Regions from separate parts of the Homo sapiens genome. Here region 2 is linked to region 1. Evidence: fine-mapped expression QTL. Tissue or cell type: whole blood. Region 1 holds a variant in brackets; the other region holds the start of a gene. All regions are shown on one strand. Distances are between the middles of the regions.

What was found. PIP is the estimated chance that this variant, and not a neighbour inherited with it, causes the effect.
Region 2: it holds the start of KCNMB1, and the variant in region 1 is fine-mapped to the expression of KCNMB1 in whole blood (TOPMed, PIP above 0.99). The same link has a PIP of 0.9 or more in blood mononuclear cells.

Annotation. Positions count from the first base shown.
Region 1 is chr5:170,353,538-170,361,716 of GRCh38, reverse strand. It overlaps a transcript of KCNIP1 not described here. Among named protein-coding and RNA genes, the nearest start is that of LINC01366, 26 kb to the right of the region's middle. RefSeq lists an enhancer at 114-614. The variant A/T (reference allele first, on the strand shown) is at 3,658.
Region 2 is chr5:170,384,675-170,392,853 of GRCh38, reverse strand. It overlaps KCNMB1 (potassium calcium-activated channel subfamily M regulatory beta subunit 1), which reads left to right and starts at 3,487. Exons shown (of 4, transcript NM_004137.4): 1 at 3,487-3,595; 2 at 7,383-7,540. The coding sequence starts at 7,407. KCNIP1-OT1 (KCNIP1 overlapping transcript 1) reads right to left here and starts at 3,361. Exons shown (of 3, transcript NR_109899.1): 1 at 3,251-3,361. It also overlaps a transcript of KCNIP1 not described here. RefSeq lists enhancers at 191-691, 692-1,192, 1,445-1,945, 1,946-2,446, 4,371-4,871 and 1 more.

The DNA of each region.
Region 1 (8,179 bases):
CCCACGAGAAGTCCACAGTGCTAGCATCCTGATCTCAGACTTCCAGCTTCCAGAACTGTGAGAAATACATTTCTGTTGTTGATAAGCCACCGTGTCTTTGTATGGTAGCTTAGGCCATCAGGTTGATAAGCAGCCTGATGGCCTAAGACAGCAAGCAGTTGTGAGGATTTGGACTCAAACCCAGGTCTGGCTCCAAAGCGGGTGTTCTTCTAAGAACACAAAATGGAATCTCAGTGGCTTCAGCCAGAGGGGACCAAGGTTAGCTTTGTGTTCATGGTCCTCCTCCCCTCATCCTAACAGAGAAGGAAGGCTTTCTTCTGCCCCTAGACTGAAGACCTGTGACAGAGAGCGTGGTCAGTGGTGATAGTAAATGACTTCCCATGAGTCTTTTTCAGGAGTCCTGGCCTTTCTTTCCTCCAGCTGGCCCGGGAGGCCTATGCAATTTCCTCATTTCCACATCCTCTCCCCCAAAGCTCCTCTCCCCTGCTGCCTGCCTTTCAGTGGGGTCCCTCCTCCTGCACTTCTGGGTGGGGTGCAGGTGGACAACGGGGAAGAACCGCCGCCTCACCTGAGCACCTGGCCAGCTGTGATGCATAGGCAGTGTGGGCCTGCACCCAGGGGCAGTCCCCCAGCAGAGCATGAGAGCGGAATGGGGGCAGGAACAGGCCTTTGGTCTTGTTTGCACTGACCCTTGTCTCATCCAGGTCGTTCTGGCTGGTCACTGCTGTCAAACTCCAGCACAGGAATTCAGACAAGGGAGATAGGGAGTGGTAGGCTCCAGAGCAAGCCTGACTAAGACCAGACCTCAAAAAGGGAACTCCAGCCACATGGCCTGATGTTGCTCGGCAGGGAAAGCATTTAGTCGTTATTTATTCAACCTTCCTTCCTCGGCTGCAGGTGCTTGAGGCACTCACTCTAGGTGATTCCCACGTGGTGAACGTGGTGAACGCTTTCACAGGGCTCCCATTCTCATGAGAATGGATGACCAATTCTCCCATGAACAACTAAATAAAAAGGATCATTTCCATTGTTGGCACATTTTTAATTATAGAACTTGTCATCAAGAGTGACTGGGGGCAGGGGGGATAATTTTGAAATAGCAGCACATCTGGATAGGAGCTGGGAAGAGGACTTGACCCACAGAGGCTCAGCCTTGTTTCTCTTGGCTACAAATCCAAGGTCGTATCATAGAAAAGAAGGGTGGGGAACTTGACTTTTACTGAGCAGCTTGTATGAGCCAGGTCCTGTGCCTGTCACATGTCCCATCTCATTCCATCTCCAGTAGCCACATGAGATGGAAATTACTGGCCCATTTACGGAAGGACACAGACTCAAGATGGGGAATGGCTTGCCCAAGGCTGTCCTGTTGGTGCATGGCAGGGTTGGAGCCCAGGTCCCTCTGGGTCCAGAGTTTTCCCGCCCTGCATCCTGCTTCCTTCCACAGTGACTTCACATCGCCACTTCCACCCTTGGGAAGCAAAGGCTTTCAGGGATTTGGGACCTGGGTCTGCTGAGAGAGATGGCCCAGGGGAGATTCTGTAACCCTAAGAAGACTGGGGAAGATGAGGGTCCCTGTGGCATGGCAAAGGAGGCCCTGGACTTAGAAGGCTGATGAAGACCTGACTAGATCCACTTCTCCCAGGGCTGTGGTGTGGCAGCCTGAACTCTCCTGCCTGCCAGAGGGCCCCGTTTCCAGCTACTTTTAATTTGGAGCAAACTAGCCGCTCCCCTGTGGTCCTGAAGTTAATAGGATGTCTGTGCAGCAGTGCCAGGATAAATGGCCCTGAACAAATTACTCCTGCATGGTAACAGGGTTATCTAGGAGAAAGACCCGGAGGCTCCAGAGGGGCAGGTGATCCCTCCTTCTTCTCTGCCTTCTACTGTGGGACTATGGAGACCCTAGTGAGCTGAGCACCTGAACAACCCAAATGGGTCAGGGAATGCTGGGCCTGCTGCAGAGGGGCAAGGGTGGTGAGGCCAGTAGGCTGGGATGAAGGCTACTGGACATCAGGAGGGCCAAGGTGAACACATGCCCCTCCTGGCAGGCTCTAGCTTGGGGCTGGAGAGGTAGGCAGGGACCCAGAAGCCCTGGATAATCAAACTTTCTTCCTGTGACAAAGCACTGGCACTCAGAGGTTCCAGGGTTGCAGAGAGTGAGTGGGGCTGTTGTAACATGACCAGAGTGCTTGCTCAGCCCCTCACTGCCAGGACAGTGAGCGAGCCAGGACTCGGATGGTGGGGACTCTCTTTCCCCAGCAAGGGGCAGCATTGAAGCTTAGCTTTTCATGGGACAGGTGGCATTCTCCTCTTGGTAGAGGGATGATGATATCTCACAGGTCTCAAAGTCCCCAGTGTGAAGGCTTCTGCTTTCCCAGACAATTCCAGTAAACAGCTGCAACACCTCAATTCCAGCCTGCCTAGTGTCCAAAACTTTGTGTGTATTTTCCCACACCCAAGAACACTTCTCACACTTGGCCTGTAAGAAGGGAGAGCCATGGGGGAGTGGCCCTCATGGGACAGAGCCTACTCAGTGTCTGGCAGGTGCTTTGGGCCTGCACACCTGCCTGAGAGGTGATAGGGATACTGAGAGAGCATGGGTATGGCTGTCCTGCTGATCTTGGCCTCTGGAGTGTTCCCTTTCCCCATAACCCAGGTGATGACACTTTATGGAATTTGTCACAACCCTTTGCATGACAGGTGGCTGCTCTGATCAGACCCAGCAGGGAAAAACCCACCAACAGAATTAGTGGGACGCTGGGGGACTCTCTGCTGGTGGCAAGGTGGGGAGTAGTGCAGGCAGGCGTGACTTCTCCAGCCCTAGGAGTGCAGAGGAATGTACCTTGTCTTGGCTGCAGCAAGACCTGGGTTCTAATCCCAGCTCTGCCACTCACCAGGGGAGCCACGACACTTAGCTAAACCCCAGTTTCCTTACCTGCTGAAATGGTGATTGCAATCCCTACCTCCAGGATCAAGACTAGAAAGAGGCAAGGAAGGTGCCTAGGGCACAAAATGTAAGCGGGGGCGGGTGCCCTGCAAGAGCAGAGTTGGGATTTGCCTGTGAGCTGATATCTCTTACTCATATCATCATTACATTAAAAAACAGCCTTGTGCCATTGATATTATTATTATCTCCAATTAAAAGTGGGGAGCCTTGGCTTGGGGTGGTGTTCAAATGACACAACTTCACACAGCTGGTAAGAGGCAGAGTTGGTACTCCAGCCTGGCCTGCTTGAAGGCAGAGTCCATGCCCGGGTCCAAGGTCAGTCTCTTGAGGATCTTGAACAGCAGTGGGAGGAGGCAAGAGGAACAGTGTGTCACTGATGGGGCAGCTGAGGTTTTGCCTCGAAAAAAGAGGAACAGCCTGGGCCTGGGCGGGAGGGGAGAGTTACGGCTCCAGGGCCTTGTCCTTGAGATAGATCTCATCTTCCCACACCCCTTTTCCCCACCCCCGCAGCCTCATGGGTGGCCTGGAGGACACTAGAAGCTCTCCTGGATTGGATTCCTCCCTTCTGCTCACTTTGGCTCTGTCATCTGTGCCTGGGGTAACATTTGTTCCCAGTGCAGAAGGAGATGAGTTTAAACCTCCCCAGCCAGAATGGAGCCTGCACAACTTCTGGTTCCTGCCAGCGGCCCCCAGGAAGTCTGTGAGGCGGGTGG[A/T]GGGGAGCTGACTGTGCAGAAAGAGGAAGACGCAGGTTCCCCAGACCCCTGATTTCACCAAGCATCCGAGCCAGGAGCTGGGCTTCTCCTAGGTTAAACAGCAGGCGAGGACCTGGCTCTGGGAGTCAGGCTTTTAACTCCTAATAAGGAATCAGGTGAGGGAGATGGCTCTGGGTAGGCCCTTAAGAAAACAAGTTGAGCAGAGGGGAAGCAGTGGTCTAAAGTCATCCAGTGGCTGGACGTGGTGGCTCATGCCTGTAATCCCAGCACTTTGGGAGCCCAAGGCAGGAGGGTCTCTTGAGCCAGGAGTTTGACATCAACCTGGGCAACATAGTGAGACCCTGTCTCTATAAACAGTCAAAATTAGCTGGTTGTGGTGGTGCACATGTGTGGTCTCAGCTATTTAGGAGGCTGAGGTGGGAGGATTGCTTGAGCCCAGAAAGTCGAGGCTGCAGTGAGCCGTGATTGCATCACTGCACTCAGCCTGGGGAACAGAATGAGACCCTGCCTCAAAATAAATAAATAAATAAAGTCATGCAGTAACTGACAAGGCCATAGGCTTTCATAAAGTGATCATGAGATGTTGCTCTTAGAATCTGTGCCTGGTGCTGAGAAAACAAGTAATGAGTGAGAGGGAGTCCCAGCCCGGAGGGGCTCTCAACCATGAGAGTATCCGCTAATAACAGAAGTCATATCCATCAACACTACTGAGCACCTAATAGGCAGGGAGCTTTATCTGCACAATCTCATTCAACCCCATAAGAAGGGTATTGTAATTCCATTTTATAGATGAGGAAACTAAATGCCAGGGAGGTGAGGGACCCAGTCCGAGGCTTCCGAGCCACAGTGCAGGGTCCGGGGATGTCTCAGTCTAGAAACCAACTGTGCTCCTCACTGCATTCGTGGTTTGAAATTTTTTTTTTTTTTAATGCCAAAGAGATTCTTTAAATGTGGGAGAAATCCAGTAAATAAAACAAATAAAAATAGAGCCAGAGGGGTGGGAGTGGGGATGCCAGAAGCCTGCCCACCCAGCCTTTCCTTCTGGGAACAATCTTAATGCCCTTCCCTAGACACTATGCAAGCTCAGACCCAGCCTGAATGTTTTACGTGGCTGGAGGCTCACGCAGGCTGGAGGCTGGAGGCTGCAGACTCAGCTTGCTGCAGCTAAACAGACTTCAGAGAGCATTTGCTGAGCACCTGTGGGACAGGTGTTGCATAGTGCTTCCTAGAAAGCTCCTGTACCAGGGGTCATCTCAGGCTGACGGCTGGTGTCTGTGCCGTGCGGTGCCGTTGCATTCGTTTAACACGGTAACACACATACTCCATTCTGGGCCCCATGCTAGTAGCTCTGGCCACAGTGGTGAGCAAAAAAATGCACATGGTCTTGCCATGATGGAGCTGAAGTCTAGTGGGGAAGAGAGCCTTTAGCAAACATGTTCCTAAAGGGAATGCAGACCACAAATTATGATCAGGGATAGGAAGGAAAGTTCAAGGTTGATGAGATATGTGAGCAGGTGGACATGAGCAGTTTATCTCTGCAATAAGCGCTGATGAGAAATCTGGGCTAGCTGGCATCTTAGACAAATGGCAAGAAGGATTTCTGGCATGGCAGGAGGTGGCCAAGGGTTAGGAACAGGCAGGACAGGGAGGGTGATCCTGGACCCTCCTTGTCCCCCAGGTATTTGCAAGGCTGGTAAGAAACAGTAAATTGCCATAGAACAAGCAGGTACCTGGTCCAACACATTCTTTACATTCCTCAGTTCTGCAAGGGACAAAGAAAAATCCCTCTCCTGAGGGTTGGATTACTGCAAATCTAGAACTCAGTGCAATGAATAATGAATAAGTGAAATCAAATTAAAATCAGAAATCATTAAGCAATCATAATGTATCCATGTAGGGTTGAATCTAAATCCACCTAGGGGAGGTGTAAACATTAGAAAGCCGTTTTCTGGACTCTCTGCAGGCCTTTCTCAGCTACCCTGCTCCCAGCCTGGCCCTGCTCCCATGTTCCTCACTATTTAACAAATATTTAGCAAACACCTGGATCGGGTAGAACACCAGTCACCTAGCACGTGCCTGGCGCAGAGCCGGGGCTGTGTAAACACTTGGTCCTCTCTGCGGAGCTGAAGCAAAGAAGACAGATGCGGTTAAGACACAATCCTGCCCTGGTGCCTGCCATGGGCTGCCTCTCTGAGCCCTGGCCACAGGAAAGGCTGTACTGAAGCAGTTCACAGGAAGGCCAGGTCCCCACGGAGTCCCTTCTGTGTCACATGGATCTTAGTTTCTGGGATTCTGAGCAGAGAGAGGGAGGCATTCTGACTCTCCAGCTGGTTCCTTGCAGAGGCCAACACTCTGATGTTGCTCCCTCTGGCAGCTTCGGCTTCCTCCCACCTTCTCAGCCCTGCCTCTCCTCATCTCAGCTTAGATGTCACTGTTTGGAGGCACTCCTTAGTCTGCCCCAGACATCTCTTCTCTATGCCTGTTGACCCCCATGATTCCCCCATCTCAGCACTCAGTGTGGCATCCAGGGAGCATCTGTGTGTGGGGTCTGGGTCGCCACTAGACTGCAGGTGGGGACAAGCCCTCCATGAGAGGCTGCAATGGGTTGCTGCCCCACACCCATTACCCTCTTAGGTCCTGCTATCTGTAATGAGGAAAGAAAACCTTCCAGCTGTCTCTGAGGATTGAATGGGGAGACTTTGTGAAATTTCCTAACCCCTTTGCTTTCTCCTTCTCCAGGAGGTAAAGCCACTGAGAGCAATCACAGCTATACCCATTAACCTCCTGTTTACCCCACTTCTGGCCTCCAGGAATTCTGCCAGGCAGCCTGGCCCTCCACATTGGGGGCTCAGCCCACCTGGGTATCTTGGAAGAGCAGTGCCCCACTTCAGAAGGATGGTAGGGAAATAACAGGAAGGTCAGAACATCCCAAGGAAGGAGATAAACAGAATCCCATCATTCCCACCACCCACACATGCCACACAACGTACACTGGGCCAGACCCGCTGGGTGGCGGGCACCTGAGCCATGTCATGAGATCTGGCTGCATATAGCCTTTCTCTGCTCTCATTGTCATTTTGTAAAATCCCATCAAAGTTTTGTGGGCTCCTTCCCTGAATATTCTGCCTGCTGCTTCCAGTGCCTCTCTCCCCAGCCCCCAAAGACTCTTCCTGAAAGACAGCATGAATATTTAAAGACGTTTTTTCAGCCAGTGGAACCACATCATGCTGCTGCTCTCCCTTGACATCATCTCCACAAAGTTGGCCAGACCCCTCTGAGGGCCTCACCTTCCCTGGTGCCAAGTGTAAAATGGGGTTTAAGACACAGGACTGGGCCCTGAGGAGTTAGCCTTCTTTCTGCCTCCCGGCTGTGGGCCCATCTGGGGCTGCAGCCCTAATTCTGGTCCATAGCCACACTTTCTGATCTGCCCAGACAGTTACTCCTGCAAACCACCTGCCACCCCAGTTCCTGGAGAAGCAGAAAAGACAGGCATGGACATAGGCATGAAATGTGGAGGGACAGGGATCCAAGAAAGCAGAACGATGAATGAAGCCCCAGAAGCACGAGACGCTGGAACCCTATGAGAGGAGGCTCTTGGCACTTGAGGTGCAGAGCTGATCCGGTTTCTGAAGCCACCAGGGCAAAGCAGATGCCGGCCCATCACCACCTCCCACTGGCCCCCTCAAGCGTCTCTGTTCTGCAGAATTACTCACAACCCACTGCATCAAATCTCTCTTTTATCAACAAAATACAACCTTCCATGGATAACTTCTTGAAACTCCAGTCACGCTAAGCCACTTCCAATGCTCTGGAAAGGGTTCTATCCCTCTGCCCGCCCATAACGTATCAGCCACACACCACCAACTCCATTTCCAAAGTTCCAGGCAATTACAGCCAGCTGAGTTCCCTGGCTGGGTGCCCGCCTACTCAAAGCCAGGACGCAGGTTGTCAGCAACCTCGAATCCCAGCCACCAATTTCCCCAGCTTTTTCCAAGACCTGGGTGCACCAGAATGGTCACGCTCACCACACCGAGGCAATGCGACCAGCCAGGCCATATCAAGACAGAAAGCAAGGGTCAAGGCCAGTTTCCATACCTTTGCTGAGGGTCCCAGTGATGAGCTTAAAGATGGTCTGGGCAAATTTCACGAACCCAAGCTTGCATCTTTTGGAGCAGCCGCTCATGGTGGCGGAGGGGAGCCAGGCTCTGCTGTCAGCACCCAGAAGGGACAGTGCCCACCTTGTGCACCCCAGGAACTTGGAGCCTGCCTGGGTGAATGAACCCTGAGTGACGGATGCACCCCTGAAGCCAGGCTCCGGGAACAGCACAGCTGCCTCTGCAGCGAGTCTGGCTTCTGCATCCAGAGAGCCTGCAGGGCAAACTCTCCCTCCCTCTCTCCACCCACTCCTGCTGTCCACTTAAGTCCTCACCACGGGAGGACCTCAGGATGCCAGGGCCGGGACAGCACTGCCGGGGCACAAGGTACTCCAAGGGAACCGAGGAGGAGAGTGAAGTTGAGCAGA
Region 2 (8,179 bases), 31 kb before region 1:
AAGCACTTTTTTTGTTTGTTTGTTTTGGTTTAGATGGAGTCTCACTCTGTCGCCCAGGCTGGAGTACAGTGGCTCAATCTCAGCTCACTGCGACCTCCGCCTCCTGGATTCAAGTGATTTTCATGCCTCGGCTTCCCAGAATAGCTGGGATTATAGGCACCTGCCATCGTGCCCAGCTAATTTTTGTATTTTTAGTAGAAACGGGGTTTCGCCATGTTGGCCAGGCTGGTCTCGAACTACTGGCCTCAAATGAACCGCCTGCCTTGGTCTCGAAAAGTGCTAGGATTACAGGCATGAGCCACCATGCCCTACCTAGATAAAGCATTTCTAAACTCTCCTGTAACACTCCATATAGCAATCTCAGGTGTTTTAATTCTCACTGGTTTAATCCTACCACTATCACCAGCAACTGTAACAGTCCCCCTTTGAAATCACTTGCAAGTGTGTTCCAGTTACTATGACTGCATAACAAATTACCCCAAAACGCAGGGGCATGAAACATTAGTTTTTTTCTTCTCGTGGATTTTGTGGCTCTGGAATTCAGAGAGAGCACAGAGCAGGTGGGCTGTCTCTGCTCCACATTCTCTGAGGCCTCAGCTGGGAGGCTGGCAGGCTGGGGGCTGGAACTGTCTGCAGGCTTGTTCTCTCCCATGCCCGGTGAGATTTGCTAGCTGTTGGCTGAGATCTGAGCTGAGGCTGTCAGCTGGAGCACGGGGCCTCGGCTTCCTACAACATGGTGGCTGGTTCCCAGGTACATGTCCCGAGAGCGTGTGGGGGGAACTCGAGCCCCCGTCTATGACTTAGCCTTGAACATCGTGCTGTGTCCTTCTACCATATTCTACTATTGAGGCCCTTACGAAGCTCCACCCAGGGTGAAGGGGAAGAGACATCAATGCCCCTCTTGATGGTGGAGTGTTGATGCCACACTGTGAAAAGGGCACATGGAATGGGAAGTATTTGGTGTGACCATCTTTGGAAAGGACAATCTCCATACTATGTGTCAGGTAGCTTAGGTGATCTCTCATTCCTCAAAAACACTGAGGGGCTAGGTATAATTATCTCTATTTTAGAGACAGACAAACTGAAGCTTAGAGAGGCAAAGTAACTTGCTTGGGCAATTTATTTCACCTCTCTGAGGCTCAGTTACTCCCTCTATCAAATGGGTAGAAAAATCTCCACCTCAGTGGTCTATTGTGAGCCTATTGTGCTAGTACCTTAAGAAGCTGTTGGAAGAGTCAGAGAAGATATTTTGTGATCTCTGACACCCCGTACTAATGCAAACCGTCAATATTTATTGTTGCAGCATTGTTATTTTCTTGCCCTCCACCTGTAGCCATCTGTCACACACAACCCCGCAGCCAGCAAAGGACCTGGGTTTTCACCCACAAACCCTCGAGGACAGGGCTTGTCAATGCCTTTTGGTTGTGGCTCATTTAGGGGGAGCAGAAGACCCCACGGCCCCCCTTCCCTGTTTGTTCCCACCTTCCCTTGGGAAGAATGCTAAAGTTTGTTTATGATTTCCAAATAATATGTAGCCCTTAATAACTTATTCAGAGTATCACGAGCAAGGAGCCCTTCGGTTATACTCATAAATGGCAGCCTGTTGCACTGTGTATCTCTCCCCCAGGGAAGCAGGAGGGGGGCCTGGCATTTCTGGATTAGCCCCAGGAGGACTTTTCCTGCTTCTGAGTGGACAGAGGATCATCCTTGGAAAATTGCTCTTCTGAGATTGAATTCCAGATCCTACATCCCTCTGTCAATCTGCCTGCAAGGTCTGAAGCTGGTCTTAGACCCTCTGGTGCTATGGTGCCCATTAAACAGACACTGTAGTCTCCTGTTAATAAGATTCAATTAGGAAAGGGGTGGAGAAGGGCACTCACCGCCTGAGAGTGTGTCAGGGAGGCCTGAGTGGCTGCCTTCATTTCGCGCCTGCTGGAGGCAGGAGGGAGGAAGGTGGTGAGCTCGCTCAGCAGGGAAGGCCAGGCTGCACCCACCTCCCTGGGGGCTGGGGAAACTCAGGGTGACCTCCAGAGCCTCAGGTGGCAGCTTACTGTATGATCGAGGTGATTTTTAATGTCTCAGAGCAGCCCCAGGGTCATCAGAGACAGACCAAGCTGTGCCATCTGGAAGGGCCAGCTTCGAATCTAGTTCTGGCCCCTAGGGTTGCACCAGTGACTTCAAGCCTCCAAGTCTCAGTTTCAGGTTCTTTGATTCTTGGGTCAAGTGAAGGGTGGAGATAAGCTGCCTTCTACCACCACGCCTGATACTTAGGAAAGCCCCAATATCTGGGATTGTTTTTGTTGTTTTGTTGAAAATATATATATATATATATATATTTGTTTTTTTTTTTTGAGACGGGGTCTCGCTCTGTTCAGGCTAGAGTGCAGTGGCACAATCTTGACTCACTGCAACCTCCGCCTCCCAGGTTCAAGCGATTCTCCTGCCTCAGCCTCCCAAGTAGCTGGGACCACAGGCATGCACCACTATGCCCGACTAATTTTTGTATTTTTAGTAGAGATGGGGTTTCGCCATGTTGCCCAGGATGGTCTCAAACTCCTGGGCTTGAGCAATCCATCTACCTTGGCATCCCAAAGTGCTGGGATTATGGGCGTGGGCCACTGTGCCTGCCCTTTGTTGCTGATTTTTAATCCTTACTTCCACTTTACAGATGAAGAAGCAGAGATCTAAAAGCATGTTTTTTGCCTGCAAATGCTGACATTCACTTGTCTTATTGCTAGGAAGAAATCTCTGTACTTTCGCGGTCTCTGGGAGGGCCCCTGGTGAGCAGACTGTCCCTGGACCTGGTTGGAAGCAGTTGTGGAGCTCTCACTACTCCCAGCTTCAGCTCAGTTGGTCCTTAAAAAGTCAGTTCTCTCCCCTTGCCATAAATCCCCACCGTCTCTAACTCCCATCACTACCCTAAAGCAAAGTAGGTTTTAAAAATGCCAGTAACACAAGTGAGAAAACTGAGGTCATTTAACGATAAGTTTGGGAGTAAAACCAAAAACAAAAAAGGAAACTGAGGCCCAGAGAGGTGCCATAACTTGCTCAGGGTCACACAGCACGTAAGTGCCAAAGGCAGGGAGCTGTAGCTGCTCCAGCGTGGATATGCCAGGGACTAGTGACAAGCCCAACCCCTCCAGCCCAACTCCACCCTTCCTCATGCCAACAAAAGGAGAATCATTTCCTATTTCTGGCATCTTTGCCAGCCCACAGAGACAGAGAGAAGAAGAAATATTTCCAAATATACCAGGCTGATCTTTCGTAGTTTCTCAGTCTTGCTGTCTGTTGTTGTTTGAAATCTGTTTCCCACGAGACTCTGGGAAGATGGAGGTGCAGGGCTTGGGTAACAGCTGCCTTCCTCAGGGCTGGGTACCTGCTCTCCGAGTCTGTGTCTCCAGGCTGTGTGCTCAGACTTGACCATGTTTGGGCATGGAGGCTTGCCCCAGATGGGGACCAAAAGCTGCTTCCCTGGAGACGGGCGGGGAGGCCAAACTTCCTGCTGAAGCTCTGTGGCCTCTTTTGGGGTGGGGGCGGGGGTCCAGGCAGAAAGAAACTGTCTGCTGCTCAAGACCCACAGGACGCCGGGAAGACTGTGAGTACCGGGCCTGAAAGCACTTGGGAAGTGATTTCTCTGAAGACCGGGCTGGAGGGAGACAGGGGAAAGCAGCCTGCCACGGGGCAGGGAGGGAGGCAGGCAGGAGGACTCCCTTCCTCTCGGGGCTGTCCTTCTGGATGGAGGGCCCGTGGTCTGGTGGCCAGTGGGGAGGGTGGCACAGTGGCCAGGTTACTCTGGTAGTAAGCGCCCTGGCCCTCTAGGTCCCAGTTCTCAGAGTGGCCAGAAGGCTGCAGCCTGGAGATTAACACCAATGCTGGCACTTGTCACCGGTAGAGAGGTGGGACAAAAATAGATTCATCAAGAGGGGTCCAGACTTCTGCTCCAAACTTTCAGGGTTTCCTTCGTTAGTAGTAATAGCTAATATTTACTGGGGGCTGATTTGGGGCTAGGTGCTATGATACATGTCTGATACTCAATATGGCATTTGATCTTTAGCTGAACTCTCTGAGGCAGGTACCATGGTTCTCGTTTCACAGTCATGTGGTTGCTAAGTGTAAGTGGCAGAGCCAGGATTTGATTCCATGTCTGAGGACCTCAGAATCGCCCTGTCCACACCCCACCAAACTGTTCAACAATGTACTCTATTCCTTGTCCTTCTAAGGAAAAGGATGTCGACCCAGCTATCAGGTCACCCAGGACACTCCAAAGTCCTGCCTTCCTTTGTCCTTCTCCATCTTCTCTGAATCTATCCCAGATCTCAAGTGACCTTTCTAAATGGGAAGATATATCCTGGAACTTCAGAGATATTTAGAAATGCTCAAAACTGGGAAGTTCTTCTTACAGTCTAACTGAAATCCCTCCTATGATAGCTGAAACCCACTTCTTCCTTTTCTTTCTGTCCCTTGGGGGATATTGACAGTTCCCATCCTTCCTCCCGCCAAAGGTTCTCCCTTTGGATGCTGAATACTAACTTCTTGCTGAAGTCATATCTACACTGAACCCCACGCATGGTCTTAGGAGGATTTATCATGACTCTATAAACTCACTCAGTGCAGGCAACAATCTCATCAGACCATTAGAGACGGGTCAGACCTGAATAAGCCAAGTTTCCAGACTTCTCTGTGACAGGGAAGCCTCTCCTTTCCTTTCCTTCTGAGCTCCTAAAACTGGTAAAACCAGGTTCCTGCCTTCACCAGCCTCAGGAGTGCCCAGGGGCCTGAGAGGGCACTAGAAGCCAAATAGCAGAGGAGGCCATGGCCCTGGGCGCTGGGGGGGGCTGATTAGCCAGGAAGGAGCCACAGGAAGCCCCCACAGGTGCGATCCAGTTCCCCCAGGAGAGAAATGGCTTTGTTGTGGGCACTCAGCCCTAGGCTTCCAAGATGGGATTTCCCATTGGCTTCAAATGATTTATGTCTCACAGTATCTGGGGTGGGGCCAAGTGCCAGTGACCCTTGCAGGTCCTGGGGAAGCAGGCTGTTGGGGCTTTTAGCTTACCTCCAGGTGATTCTGTTGCTTTACCTGTGAATACATGGAGAGTCTTGTTCAACTGACGCCAGGTAGAAAAAGGCATGGGCTCTCCCATTCCCACAAGATCACAGAACAGGAGGAAAAGGATTGAATAAAAAGAGTTGAATAAAACATCTCTCTTTGTCGGGGGCAATTTCTGCTTGCTTGTGCTTTTATAATGTCTCCATTAGAATGCAGGAGAAACTCACCTCCTGGTGCCAAATAAAGGAGAAAAAGTTGTCATTGGATGTCACCTCTGCCGATCGATAGGGGAGGTGGACCAGCTCACTGGGAAGGTGTGATGGGTATCCGTGGTGCCTGACCCTGGTCTCTTCCCTTTAGCGGAGATGCCCGGGTATGAGGGCAGCCTGGCTAAGGGGAGGGAGTCAAGAATCTCTGAATATTTGAAACAGTCTAGTAGTTAAGAGACGCCTGAGCAGAAAATAGAGCACTTTGCAGAAAATCTCTTTGGACTAAGGCCTGTCACCCGGACACTGGCTAATTAAACAAACAAAAACCATAATATGTTTATTACTTTAGGGACCTGGCAAGGAGAATAAAGTCCCCCTGATATCTGGCTAAAATTTCCCCTAAATTCCCCTAAAATTTCCCCTAAAATGGAGGATTACATTGATAGCTTCCTGGTATTTTTGGTAGAAATGGACTCTGGTTACTTTAAACAAATAAAAACAACAGCAAATAAATTTACCAGAGGCTCTAGGACAGCTTGCGGAACCATGGGAAATCACGCGGGGACCATGGCTGGGCATCTCTGTGGCTCCAGGCGGCATAGATTGAGGGGCTGTTTCTTGAAGTCTTTGTCAAGACTCACACTCCTGGGGGAGCGATCAGGAGCCTAGCAGGGGAGGGTGGAATCTTTGCTTGCATTGGGGTGGAGTCAATGTCCAGGGGAAAAACAAGGAGTTGCTGCCTAAAGAAAGAGGAGAGAAGGAAAGCAACCACCAGCAGAATGTGCCCATTCTGCTTTGTCCCAGGTGGCTTCAAGCCCTGAAATAAGAAAGCAGTCGCTGAGGCCACCATGATGCCTTCTTTCTTCTTTCTTTGCTTGAAGTAGGGGAATGTTCCTTACAAAAAAAAAAAACACCGGAATATGGTAAACCTCCTGCCTCTCCTGACAACCTGCAGCTGCCTTCTGGGGCCCTCCTCTCCTTTCCCTGCCTGTGCCCGGCCCAGCTAGCCCTGCCACAGAACTGTTTCTGGGCAGAAATACTCCAAGTATCCCTGTGAGATAAGTGCCGTGGAAGGAGGTGCATGGATGATGCACATGTACTGCTCGCTCACCGCATGGGACCTATGACTGTTGTAGCAAATGATCATAAACCTGACGGCCTCAAACGACAGAAATTTCACCAGAAGTCCAAAATCACCAAGGTGTCTGCAGGCTGCACTCCCTGCAGTGGCCGTGGGGGATGAGCCATTGTTCCTTGCCCCCGCCAGCTTCTGACGCACTCCTTGGCCTGTGGTCACATCACTCTAATTGCTGTCTCCCTGGTCATATCACCTTAGCTTTCTCATCTGTTTAATCTCCCTTCACTTCCCTCTTATTAGGACCCTTGGGATTACATTTAGGAGCTACATGGATAATCCAATATTGTCTCCCCATTTCAAGAGCCTTTATCTTTTTTTGTTTTTTGTTTTTTTTTTTGACGGAGTCTTGCTTTGTTGCCCAGGCTGGAGTGCAGTGGCGCATCTCTGCTCACTGCAAGCTCCGCCTCCTGGGTTCATGCCATTCTCCTGCCTCAGCCTCCCCTGTAGCTGGGACTACTGGCTCCCACGACCACACCCGGCTAATTTTTTGTATTTTTTTTTTTTAGTAGAGATGGGGTTTCACCATGTTAGCCAGGATGGTCTTGATCTCCTGACCTCATGATCCGCCCACCTCGGTCTCCGAAAGTGCTGGGATTTCAGGCATGAGCCACCGCACCTGGCCTTCAAGAGCCTTTATCTTAATCATTTCTGCAAAGTCATTGCCACATAAAGTAACATTGATAGCTTCCAGAGACTAGAACATAGACATCTTGGGGGGCCATTACTGAGCCTATTACATACTGTGTGACCTAGGGCAAGTCACTTTACCTCTCTGAGCCGTAGGTCTTTTATCTGCAATTGCCTCTCAATTGCACAGGGAAGGCTTACATGGGGTCCAAAAAGCAAGACTTCTGGAAGTTGCAAAGCTCCAAATATAAACAAGAGTGATATTAATAGTTGAGTACCTTCCCCTCTCACCTGTCCTCTCTTTCTGTGGATCACCTGTGAACTGGGCTGATCTCACTTCTGTTTGCTTCTGTGGACCTAGAAATGATCACTGCCCCCAGTGAATATGGTGAAGAAGCTGGTGATGGCCCAGAAGCGGGGAGAGACACGAGCCCTTTGCCTGGGTGTAACCATGGTGGTGTGTGCCGTCATCACCTACTACATCCTGGTCACGACTGTGCTGCCCCTCTACCAGAAAAGGTACTGAGCTCTCCCGGCCTGCCCACCCCCCAACCCTCTCCTAAGGGTCTGGCATCTGTAAGGAACCCTGGCCTTCTACTCACCCCTCTCCTTGACCCTCATTCAAGGCAGCAGGGTCAAGACGATGCTCATTCTTAGGTTCTAGGGTTCAAGTGCAGGGAAGGTAGGATGAACTGAGCCCCACTGGTCTGAGATTCTAGGACCTGGTGGTAACAGACACATGATCTAGGACGTGGTGGTAACAGACACATGATGCCCTTCTCAGAAGAAATAGCAAAGAATCAGAGCAAAGGTTCCAGTGCAAGTTTGATCCCAGGAGGAATCAGAGAATTGCAGATGTTTACAGCTCAGCTGCATAATTCTCTCCCCTCTGAAGCCTCCCTGTCAGGTGGGCATCCAGCCTCCTGATGAATACCTCAAGAGACGGGGAGCTCCTTGCCTCACTGAACATACATTTCATGTTTGAGGTTTTCTGATGTGTCTGCATTGAGCCAGCATCTGCTTCCCTGAAGTTCTGCTCAGGAATCTCAGAGAATGGTCCATGCCCTTGCTCCATGACATATCAACCACTTGAGATTTTAAGGAAAAGCTGTGAATTCCTAATTCGTGTTCTATTTGGAACAAAGACACTCAGTTCCC